Linked DNA regions of Homo sapiens: region 2 is linked to region 1. A link means that fine-mapping ties the variant in region 1 to the expression of a gene that starts in the linked region. Tissue or cell type: whole blood. Region 1 holds a variant in brackets; the other region holds the start of a gene. All regions are shown on one strand. Distances are between the middles of the regions.

The links.
Region 2: it holds the start of ITGA6, and the variant in region 1 is fine-mapped to the expression of ITGA6 in whole blood (TOPMed, PIP above 0.99). The same link has a PIP of 0.9 or more in blood mononuclear cells.

Annotation. Positions count from the first base shown.
Region 1 is chr2:172,506,780-172,512,155 of GRCh38, reverse strand. The region is part of intron 1 of PDK1-AS1 (PDK1 and ITGA6 antisense RNA 1); the gene reads left to right. Among named protein-coding and RNA genes, the nearest start is that of ITGA6-AS1, 43 kb to the right of the region's middle. The variant C/T (reference allele first, on the strand shown) is at 2,451.
Region 2 is chr2:172,424,970-172,430,345 of GRCh38, reverse strand. It overlaps ITGA6 (integrin subunit alpha 6), which reads right to left and starts at 2,760. Exons shown (of 26, transcript NM_000210.4): 1 at 2,376-2,760. The coding sequence starts at 2,557. RefSeq lists enhancers at 1-23, 1,448-1,948 and a silencer at 2,733-2,812.

The sequences.
Region 1 (5,376 bases):
GGTGGGTGCCTGTAATTGCAGCTACTTGCTACTTGGGAGGCTGAGGTGAGAGAATCACTTGAACTCAGGAGGTGGAGGTTGCAGTGAGCCAAGATTGCACCACTACACTCCAGCCTGGGCTATGGAGTGAGACCCTGTCTCTAAATAAATAAATAAAAATAAAAAATTCATATGTACAACCCTAGCTGCAAGGGAGTCTGGGAAGGTATTTTTAGCACCTCAGCCCTTCCAACTAGAAAAAGTATGGAATAGAGCAAGCCAGTCCACAGATATGTATCACAGTGGCTTAGGAGTTTTATTAATTTATGTGTGTGTGTTTTCTGGCATGAGTACTTGGGTTGTTCGTGGTAGGCACAGGCAAAGAAACACTGAGTTGCTGCTTGAGAAAGGAAATGTCAAGTTGCAAAAGCTTCTCTTTAAGTCATCCTGAACCTGTTCAATGTGTTTGTTTCATTACTGATTTAGATAAGTCTTTATAACCAGATCAACATGTCACTGCTTCTGTGGGTCAGCTACTAGAACTGGCACATTGTTTCCCATTCCGTTGTAATGCTATTCACTGTCATGGGATTTTCCTTCTCACGGGGCAGGAATCTTAAAAGCATGGCCTGTAAGAGTAGCCTACAACAAATGTCAGCTATCCTGTCAAGACGGTGAAAGCTATATATTTAGATAAACAGACTTAACTGCACCCCAGTCAGTCCTTATCCACACATTTGAGGATGTTAGGGGTTTGGAAGTTGTGTAGAAAGACATAAGACAGTGTAAGCCTAGGTTATAATCTTATTCCTTATACCATTATACCTTATGCCATTTTACAGGTGAAGGAATTAAGGCATCAGGCATTTAAACTTGCCCAGGTCATACAGTAAAAAGTGACACAATAGGGACTTGAATAAAGACTGGCTCTAGAGACCCTTGACACCCAAAGAGTAATCCATAGATCAGTAGTATTGCAACACCTGGAGGTTGTTAGAAATGTAGACTCTCAGGCTGTTTCCTAGACTGTTTAAATCAGAACCTGAATCAACAAGATCCTCAGGTGAGTCTTAGGCATGTTAAATTTTGAGAAAGACTGCTCTTAACTTCTCTAATTGAGACTTCCTGACCACCAGTGGCTTCCTCAGGTAAGAACCCCAGAACTTCAGTTCCATCAGCAATTTGAGGACACCTTGGCATCAGGCAGTCCCCCAATCTTCCTATGGAAGAATGCATGTATATGTATGTTTTTTGCCTTTACATAGTCTTTCAGTCCATGCATTATTGTGACATGTGGGAGGCAGGAGTTTTCAAATTTGTTCTTCCAGTGACAAACTCCGTTCTAACACACATGGTGTAACTCAGGTGCAAGATGAGCTCTGTGAGCATTTCCTCTTCTGCACAGCAGTAAAGGTAATAAGCAGTAAAACTGTGGCTTGCCTTCCCACTAAAGGAAACCAAAGAAATCGATGGTGTGTAAAGAACTCTGAGAAAAGGTTCAAAAAGAGAATCTGCTCTTTTCACACTCTTCCATGTCAGCGGGGAGAAAAACACAAAGATTCAATACCTAGCGATTTCAAGATGCTTTGTTGATTATCTTAACATGTCATCTTTCTGACCCCAACCGAAGACTGCATTATGGTCACTGTATTAAGGGTTGAGACAGAATTTAACATAGAAATAAGGTCACTCTTGTCGTTGTTCAGAATGATCTATGTTGATAAGGACTTTAAGAGGTTCATCGTATTTTTTTTTTGTAGTTATAACACCCACTAGTAAGACTTAAGTTGGTAGACACTGAAGAATGAGGAGACAAAAGGTTCCCGTGACAATAAAAATAAACCGTGTCTCCCCATCTGTGAAACGAGGAAGTAGAACTAGATTTCCATGCTTCCTTCCCTTTTTAAGATTTATGGTTCTATATAATAAACAAGGGTAAGTATAAAAGTAACTAGTAAGCACTTCCAGATGGTCCAATTTTCTCTTTACAAGAACCTCTGGGCTGGGTATGGTGGCTCACACCTGTAATCCCAGCACTTTGGCATGCCGAAGCAGGGGTGGATCATCTGAGGTCAGGAATTCAACACCAGCCTGGCCAACATGGCGAAACCCCGTCTCTACTAAAAATACAAAAAATTAGCCATGCATGGTGGCGGGCGCCTATAATCCCAGCTGCTTGGGAGGCTGATACAGGAGAATTGCTTGAACCCAGAAGGCAGAGGTTGCACTGAGCCAAGATCGTGCCATTGCACTCCAGCCTGGGCAGCAAGAGTAAAACTCCGTCTCGATGGAGCCAGACTCCATCTCAAAAAAAAAAAAAAAAAAAAAAAAAAAGAACCTCTGAGTGAGCACTTATCTTACAGGCCAAGAAACTGGGCACAGAGATATCCGTAACTCACCCAAGGTTATGTTCTAAGAGGAGAAGCTAATTCACACCTGCAGCGTGGCTCCAGAGACATGCCCTTATGCAC[C/T]GCTCAGCTGCCTCCCTGCCTATAGCAAATGCACCTCTAGCTTCTCAGCTCCTGTTACTGGTGCAGTGGAAGTACCACAAACAGGAACGAGGCATTCCACACAGTGAGCATATTATTTTGATAAATATTCACAACATCCAATAATCTCTAAAGTAGTTCTCAATCCTGGCTGCACTTTACGAGTCAGCTGGGGAGCTTTAAGCAGCGCTAATTTCTGGGTCTCACTCAGATTCTCATGTAGTCAGTGTGGCAGATTGTCCAGCCATCGGGATTTTAATAAATGTATTTCTTTGGTGATTTAAATGTGTAGACCTGCTTAAGAATGACTCTAAATTTTCTGGGAATGGGGTTGTTCTGGGGGCAAGTTCTGCCCACAAAGGTTCAGGTATTGACTTTATTTTTTTTTTTGAGACAGAGTTTTGCTTTTGTTGCCCAGGCTGGACTGCAGTGGCGCAGTCTTGGCTCACTGCAACCTCTGCCTCCCAGTTCAAGCGATTCTCCTGCCTCAGCGTCCCAAGTAGCTGGGATTATAGCCATGTGCCACCACCACACCCGGCTCATTTTTTGTATTTAGTAGAAACGGGGTTTCACCATGTCAGTCAGGCTAGTCTCGAACTCCTGACCTTATGTGATCTGCCTGCCTCGGCCTCCCAAAGTCCTGGGATTACAGGCGTGAACCTCCACGCCTGGCCAGGTATTGAATTTATGTGTCAATCATTGATATCTTAGGGTTTTAAATTCTGCTACCTATAAAAAGTGAATTCACTTATGCTTGTCAATACCATCTGTAGTTTCAGATAAGCTTCCTATAAAAGGTCAGAGCCAGTGTCTTACGTATATCCCCAGAGCCTAACATCCCTAAACATCTGTTTACTTCCAACTGGAAAATAATTATTAAATCACATCCCTCTCACAATGACAGGATCTTAACAGAACACTCACTTAAATCCACTTACTGATTGTTGGTGAACTGAAAACTTAAATTGCTAGGCTTTGAGATAACAACGGTAGCACATTCTGACACTGTAATTTCTTGAGATTTTTGGCACGTTTTAGAAGGCTGAAGAGTAAGAAATTTATCTGACCTCTCCTAGCAGGGAACTGTTTCCATGACCCCAGCACAGGCAGCATAACTGAGAGATGCCTCCAGGGCAAGAGAAGATTGAGGCACTTATGCTTTGCTGACTGCTACAAAAATTGCACTTGACCACTTGACTCCCTCAACTCTGGTGTAATCATCAACTATTACCTGGTTAGTTTTGCCCTTTGTGGTGCCTGGTCCACCCTTGCACTGGGCCACACCAGTTTCCTTCCTCTGGTTTGTGTTTTACAGTTCATTTACCCTGAGTCAAGAGGATTTGGCTATGAATCCCCTCATGATTTTCCTCCTAGATGAGGTCTATTGGTAGCACCTCCACAGACCTGGTCTCAGCTCCTAGTGTACAGCTCTCCCACCTTCCAACAGCTGGATGAGATGCCTTTTGGAGCTGGCAAAACCTGTTTAAGGTACAGGAGAGAAAAAGAACTTGCTATTAACCGTAATCAGAAACTACGGGAAGAACAGATGCCCACTAGCATGCAATAGCCACTCTTGAAATCATTCTGAAGTTCATTTTCTTCACCTCTTTGACCCTCACCTTTTCCTCATTCCAAGTGGTTGGACCCTGTCCTTTGGTCTTAAGGAACTGCTTTTAATCACTTACTTTATGCTCCCCAAATTGATCCAACAACTCTTCCACATTTCTGTTTTCTCAGCCCTGTGGATGTACTTATGTGGAACCCAACCACTGACAGCGTCTCTTTCCCTCCTTGAAAACAAGTCTCTCAATCCCGGCTTGTCTTCCCACATTGTCCTTTTGTGGGATAGTGTACTGGAGACCAGTTTCTCATTAAGATGTTTTCATTTAGAGTAGAAGGCTTGATCTTATCCTTACTTCCCTGATTTGGACAATTTTTGAGACAGGATCTCACTCTGTTGCCCAGGCCAGAGTGCAGTGGCATGATCATAGCTCACTGCAGCCTCAAACTCCTAGGCTCAAGCAATCTTCCCACCACAGCCTCCCGAGTAGCAAGGACTACAGGTGCACACCACCACACCTGGCTAATTTTTAAATTTTTTGTAGAGATTGGGTCTTGCCATGTTGCCCAAGCTGATCTCAACTTGTGGTCTCAAGGATCCTCAGCCTCCCAGAGTGCTGGGATTACAGGCATGAGCCACCATGGCTGGCAGTCTGGACAATCTTTAAAGCATTCCCCACCTATATCAACACCACATGCTAGAATATTCTCAGCCACAAGGGAAAAGCGTAAACCATGACTATGCACGACACACTGAATTTGCAGCAACTAATTTACAACCAATAATGAAGTATCAATGTTTGCAGTGATTCCTCTGTGAATCCAAATAGATCCAAGGATAACCCTGTAATAATTCCACAATCGCTGGTAGACGTTCCTGTAATTTTTGAGAGGGAGGGGAAGTGTTGGAATCACAGGCACTATGACTGGATGGGCCATGACTTACTTACAGTCTGTGTTATTTATGCCATAGCCCTAGTCAAACCACAGCTACTGATAGGCTCTATGAGGTTATGACGATTACATATTATTGTAGTGATTTAATCTGGGTATATCTGATATGTGAACTGAGGCTAAAAAGGTTCACAGCCACTGGCCCAAATCATTAAGTGCCAATCAATCACATATTTCTTTGGGTGGTAACACCTGTTTGATCTTCAAAGAACCAAGAAGGCCAAGATTTTATGTAATGCCAAGTATAGTGGAGAGCTATTACCTAATATATTAGACAGACATTTATTCAGGCCAGGGCACACTATATTGTCTAGGCATTTTATATATATATATGTGTGTGTGTGTGTGTGTGTGTGTGTGTATATACGTATATATGTATATATATATTTATATA
Region 2 (5,376 bases), 82 kb after region 1:
AATCTTAGAATCACAGAATGTTTAAGACACCTTGTAAGGTACCTGACACACAGTAGGTACACAATTACTGCTTTTTAAATGATCATTAACAGCTACCATTTAGTCAGCAAGTACCCATGCCAGACAGGCATTAAGCACTTTGCATATTATCTCTTAATCCTCATAATAACCCCAGTAAGCAGTAATATCTCCATTTTACAGATAAAGAAATTAAAGCTCAAAGTAAATTAACAGCTGCTAATAAAAGGCCGAGAAGGAATCTCAGCTTAGGTCTCTCTCCCACCAGGTCCCTGAAAGACCCCCACTGAGTTTTTCCATAGAGTTTAGGAAGCTGGTCCAGAAGTTTTCTCAGTCTTACTGGCTCTGCCATTTACACCCACATTCTTTACTGTCAAAGGTTGACAACTGACCTGTGCTATGGCCTGTGTGTGCTGGTTCTCCTGGGAAGACCAATGCTATTCCTGAAGCTGGAATAAAGCTTTACAAAAGCATGGAGGTGGGCAGCACGTGACATAAACCACAGCCTCTTTAAAGTGTGGTCACTGCCTTTGGACTCTAGGAAACATACAGTCTCCTTATACGGGGCCTCTCCCCTCTGTCAGCTGCTAAGAAGAGCTTTCCTAGAAGGCATCAGACCCCATTGCAGGCTTATCCTTACCTCGGGAGGAGTTGCCTCAGCTCTAATACCAGAGAAGCCCAGCAGCAGTAACAAGTTTTAGCAAGCATGCTGCTAACCTTCACGACACAGATTCCTGGCAAAGTCACGTTTCGCAAATCTCCACTGCCAGGATATTTCTTGTCCCAGTACTTTCCCTTCACACTTTTTGCTTGAACAAGTATTTCAAGGAAGCCACCGGTTTCAGTGGGGCTCTGGTGCAGAGAGAGAATGCCCAGGAGAATGAATTCCCTCTGCTGGCCCACAATCATTTCTGCACTAACAAGCTCAAATTCTACACACCAAGTATTCCGAGACAATAAACGTCATCTATTAACTGAGTTAACAGGAACCTTTCATTTCAGATTTACAGCTTAACAACAATTATTTCTGAGAGAAAGCAGAGTATAAGCAGCTGGCCAGGCATATAGCCTCAGACCACCCTCCTAGAGCCTCCCCACCCCCAGCTAATTTCTGTGCTTCACCTAGCAGGTGTTATCAGAAAAAAAAAAAAACTGACTAAAATTCAGGGGCTGCAACATTCACGAATTCCAAAGTTGTTAACCGCTGAAATCAAGAGGTTTCCTCCAGTTCTAAAATCCCATTCGCCTCTCCTAAACACAAAATCTCTTCACTGTGGCTGCACTTTGCTTTCTCCGGTCTGTTGGTCCTGGAAGGTCCTTAGTTCAACTCAAGGCCTGGGTGGGGAGGGGAGACCTTTTGTTGCTACAGCCTATTTTTCAGTAGCACAGATGAAGAATGCAACCCCATAGCGATTAAGGCGACTAAGCGCCAAAATACCCTCTCCGGCTTAAATAGCCGATCATGTGGGAACCAAACACTGTTTAAGAAATAAAAGGAGAGGCCAGTAGTGCCGGTCTCCTCTTTCTCCTGGGAGGTTTACCGCTACGGTGGGGGGTTGTCCCTTACAAACCTTGTTTGCAAAGTCCAGGCTCAGATCGGACATTTTGCTTTAACCCCTTGGCTGTGCCCGCCCAACGCAGGAGCCGAGCGGGTCTCGGGTGCGGCCGAGTACTTTGGGGGCTGGGCACATCACTCAGACTTGTTTTCTCAGCTGATCTAGTCCAGCGAACAGGTGTTTGGTTAATTCCCGCCCCCACCCCCATCTTTTTTTTTTTTTTTTTCAAAGGCATGTAAAAGTATCTCCTAAGGAGCGCCCCCGCCTTGCTGAGAAAGTCATGCAGGACACATGGAAAGTGGCTTTCCAACTTGTGCGGGGCGCGCCAGTCTGCGGGGGAGACGGGGTGCACCGTGAGTTTGGGAAAGGCCTAGACCATCCTGGAACTACGCTCCCTGCAAACCCACAGCAGCGCTGCGGTGACCCTGAACGCCACCCCAGCCCCAAACACACACGTGAAGCTCAGCAAAGCGTGCCACCTGCCGGGGTCCCAGCAAACACGCCCGGAGGGAAGAACCGGCGGAAAGCACTTTGTTTAAAACAGAAAAAAAAGTAAACTCTCCCGGGGCCCAGCCTAGCCCTCGGGTTCTCCTCCTTCCCGAGCTGAATGGAGGGAGGCGCCGCGCGGGGCGGGTCAGGGCGGGGAGCCGAGCGCGCTGGGCGCTGGGTGCGCCTCGGCCGGCCCGGGCGCGACCCACGGGCCAACTACTCCCCGGGGCCGGCGGGAACAGGGCGCGCCCTCGCCTCAACTCGCGCGCAGGCCGGCGCCCCAGTGGGGGTGGGAAGGGTCTGGGAACTCACAGCCGCTTGTCCTCGGGCTGCAGTTGCCAGTGCATGGCCAGCGAGAAGCCGAAGAGGCTCCCGGGGTCTCCATATTTCCGGATCACGTTGTCCTCCCGAGTGTCCAAGTTGAAGGCTGCGCCGAGCCGGGACAGGAGCCCCGCCGACAGGTAGAGCAAGCACAGCTGCCCGGCGGCGGCCATGGGCGGACGCACGGGGAGGGGAGCGGGGACCTGCAGCGGCCGCCCTGCGCTCCGGGCTGGGTCCGAGGCTGCCGCGCTGCTGCTACCGCAGCCACCTTCGCCTCCTCTCGCCGCTGCGCCCGGCCCCACCCCCGGGACGGGTCGCGCTCTCCGTCCGGCCGCTCCCCCTCGCGGGCAGCTCGCGACCGCTGAATGAGCCCGTTGTTCTCTGGAGACTCGCAGGCGTTTTATCAAGTGACGAGGACGCCGGCCCCGCCCCTCCCCACCCTCTCGCCCCTCCTTGCGCGCCCGCGGCCCGGCGCACCGCCCGCACCTTACCCGCCGGCTCTGGCGTCTCCAGCTGCCCGGTACCTGCCCGGAAGCCACGACGTGGGAGCCCCGGAGGCGAGCTCGCGGCGAAGCAGCCCCACTGCGCCGCCCTCTGTGGACAGAATTGTGGTTGCCGAGTAGCACAGAGCGAGGGAGACTTTACTACCCGTTATAAAGAGAAGTGCAGGTGATGCACCGGGCCTCATGGCCTGAGCAGCCTGTTCTTGCAGATGTGGGCCCACGTGCAGATGCATACGTCATTCATTCATTTCTACAGGTGTTTATGGAGCGCTTAAGGCGTGCCCAACACTTGGGGACTACAGCTGTGTAGACTGTTCTGGGTCCTCAAACACCTAACAACCCTCAAAAATGATCACAGCGCACACCTTGATAGTGCTGTATAATGTACACAACCCAGCCATTACCTCAATTCATCCTAACAGTCCTATGAGGTAGGTGTTTCTTTTTGCAGATCAGAAAACCGAAGTTCCGCCTTGTCCCCAGATCACCTAGGATTTTGCCCAGGTGACCAGGAGAGCTTGTGGAAGAAGTCACGCAAGTCAAGGATGGGTTGTTTAAAGTGGCGCCAGGAGCTCAGGCGACGATGCCGTTCTTTCCTAGCCCCGGACTTTCAGAACTAGTTGTGGGGAGAACTGCTGGGCCAAGAGACAGCTCCGAGTTCTGTGTAGGTGGCATGAAGGCTCCTGCCTCCAGGACATGAGGCGGGGCTCCAGTGAGGTGTTGGCCCTAGGGGCAACCTTATCCTGCAGGGGTTCTTAACCCGAGGAGAGGTAATTAATTCAAGAGTACTGTGAACTTGGATGAGAAAAAATTTACGTCTTAATTTTCACCAACCTCTGACATTTAGCACGTTTTGCCATTATGAACGTAGACAACAAACTACAGTAGCAGTAGGATAAGTATTTATGACTTAGTAATCACTAGAAACCATAGGTTTTTACATCACATCACAGTTGTTGCAAGTATCTCAAATAACAGTAGTTATTAGACAATCAGCCAGATATTATATGTCAATAATGAAGCATATATATTGCTCTAGCACAAATTTTTAAAAACATTTTGTTAGCTACATTTCAATATTATTGGCTTTTTTTGTAACCTCTTGTGGTTTCTTTTATGTATTTAAAACCCTTATTCTGAGAAGAACCCCATGGTTTTCAGCAGCCTGCCAAAGGGGTCCCATGGCATGAAAAGGTTGGGACGTGCTGGCCTGAAGCCTTCTGGAATGCCTTGGGGAGCCCTCTTTGGAATCTGACATCCCTGCATTGGAAATACAAGCAGGGTGCAGCCCCAGGAAAGAGCAGGAGCTGTGTGTGCATAGGGGTAGGGGTGGCCTCTTCTTCACCTCAAGGAGTATTCAAGAGAACAGCATGTGCCACTCAGAAAAGCTGCGTGAACATCATCAAGGGTCCCCACAGGTGGTAGCAGCTGTCAGAGTAAGTCCGTCAGTATATTAGGGGTGTGTACCACTTCCTTTCCAATCAGTAACTCCAGTCAATTATAGTCCAAAGTGGGGTGCAGTGGTTTAAATTCAGTAGATGATTTTGGAGAGCACACAGTTTTAACAAATATATCTTGATAAGGTTGAGAAACTATTGGAGACAATCTAGTAAACTAAGAAGTACTTGCAACGTGATTTTTCATGCAAATAAGTTGCAAGTTAGCCTTTTCCCTTCGTGTAAAATATGTACTATTCCAGAGAGATGGGGTCCAGACTATTATAGGCATAGTATAATGAACCTCACTGCAGAGTGTACTCAGCCAGGAGCTGGTGATTTGGCTGTAATGGTTACTGAAATATTCTGAATTGGTTGATAAAAGCTGCTGCCCTTAGTTCCTCACAGGCAACCATCCCTGCCCTGCCCATTTTCCTAGGACTAAGCAACTTCCTCACAACCTGGCAAATGAAAGTTTAAGCCCTTAAGCCCTGATGCAGCAAGGGCTCCCTCTGCTTGGATATCCCCATGTCACACCAGCTGTTAACTATTCTGAATATCACCCCTTGCTTCTAAGAGTAATTCTGTGGACCATTGATTCCTGTCTTCCCAAGATGTGTTTAGTGGATGATGTATGAATGGCCAGAGTTATTTACTTTATCCCAAACACAGATTGTGCTCAAATTGAAATTCTAAATAATATTAAATTTAAATATCACAACTACATGTATAGCACTACTGAAGCAAATTATGCTTGTGTGGGAAGAGGTTCAGATAAAGAAAAACAAGGCTGGGAGTCTTGTTCTGGAATATGTCAAGTGCCCATCGCAAATGGAAAACTTATTAGCTCAGTGCTCCTACCTGCCACCTGTCTCCTACCTACTTGAAGTTGAGTCAAACTCTCACTCTCAACATAGATGCCGAAGATACTTGAAGTTGAGTCAAACCCTCACTCTTGACATAATTTATTTGAAGATTGTCAGCTCCTTCTGACTATAACCATCAAGTTTTGGCCAGGCACAGTGGCTCACGCCTATAATCCTGGCACTTTGG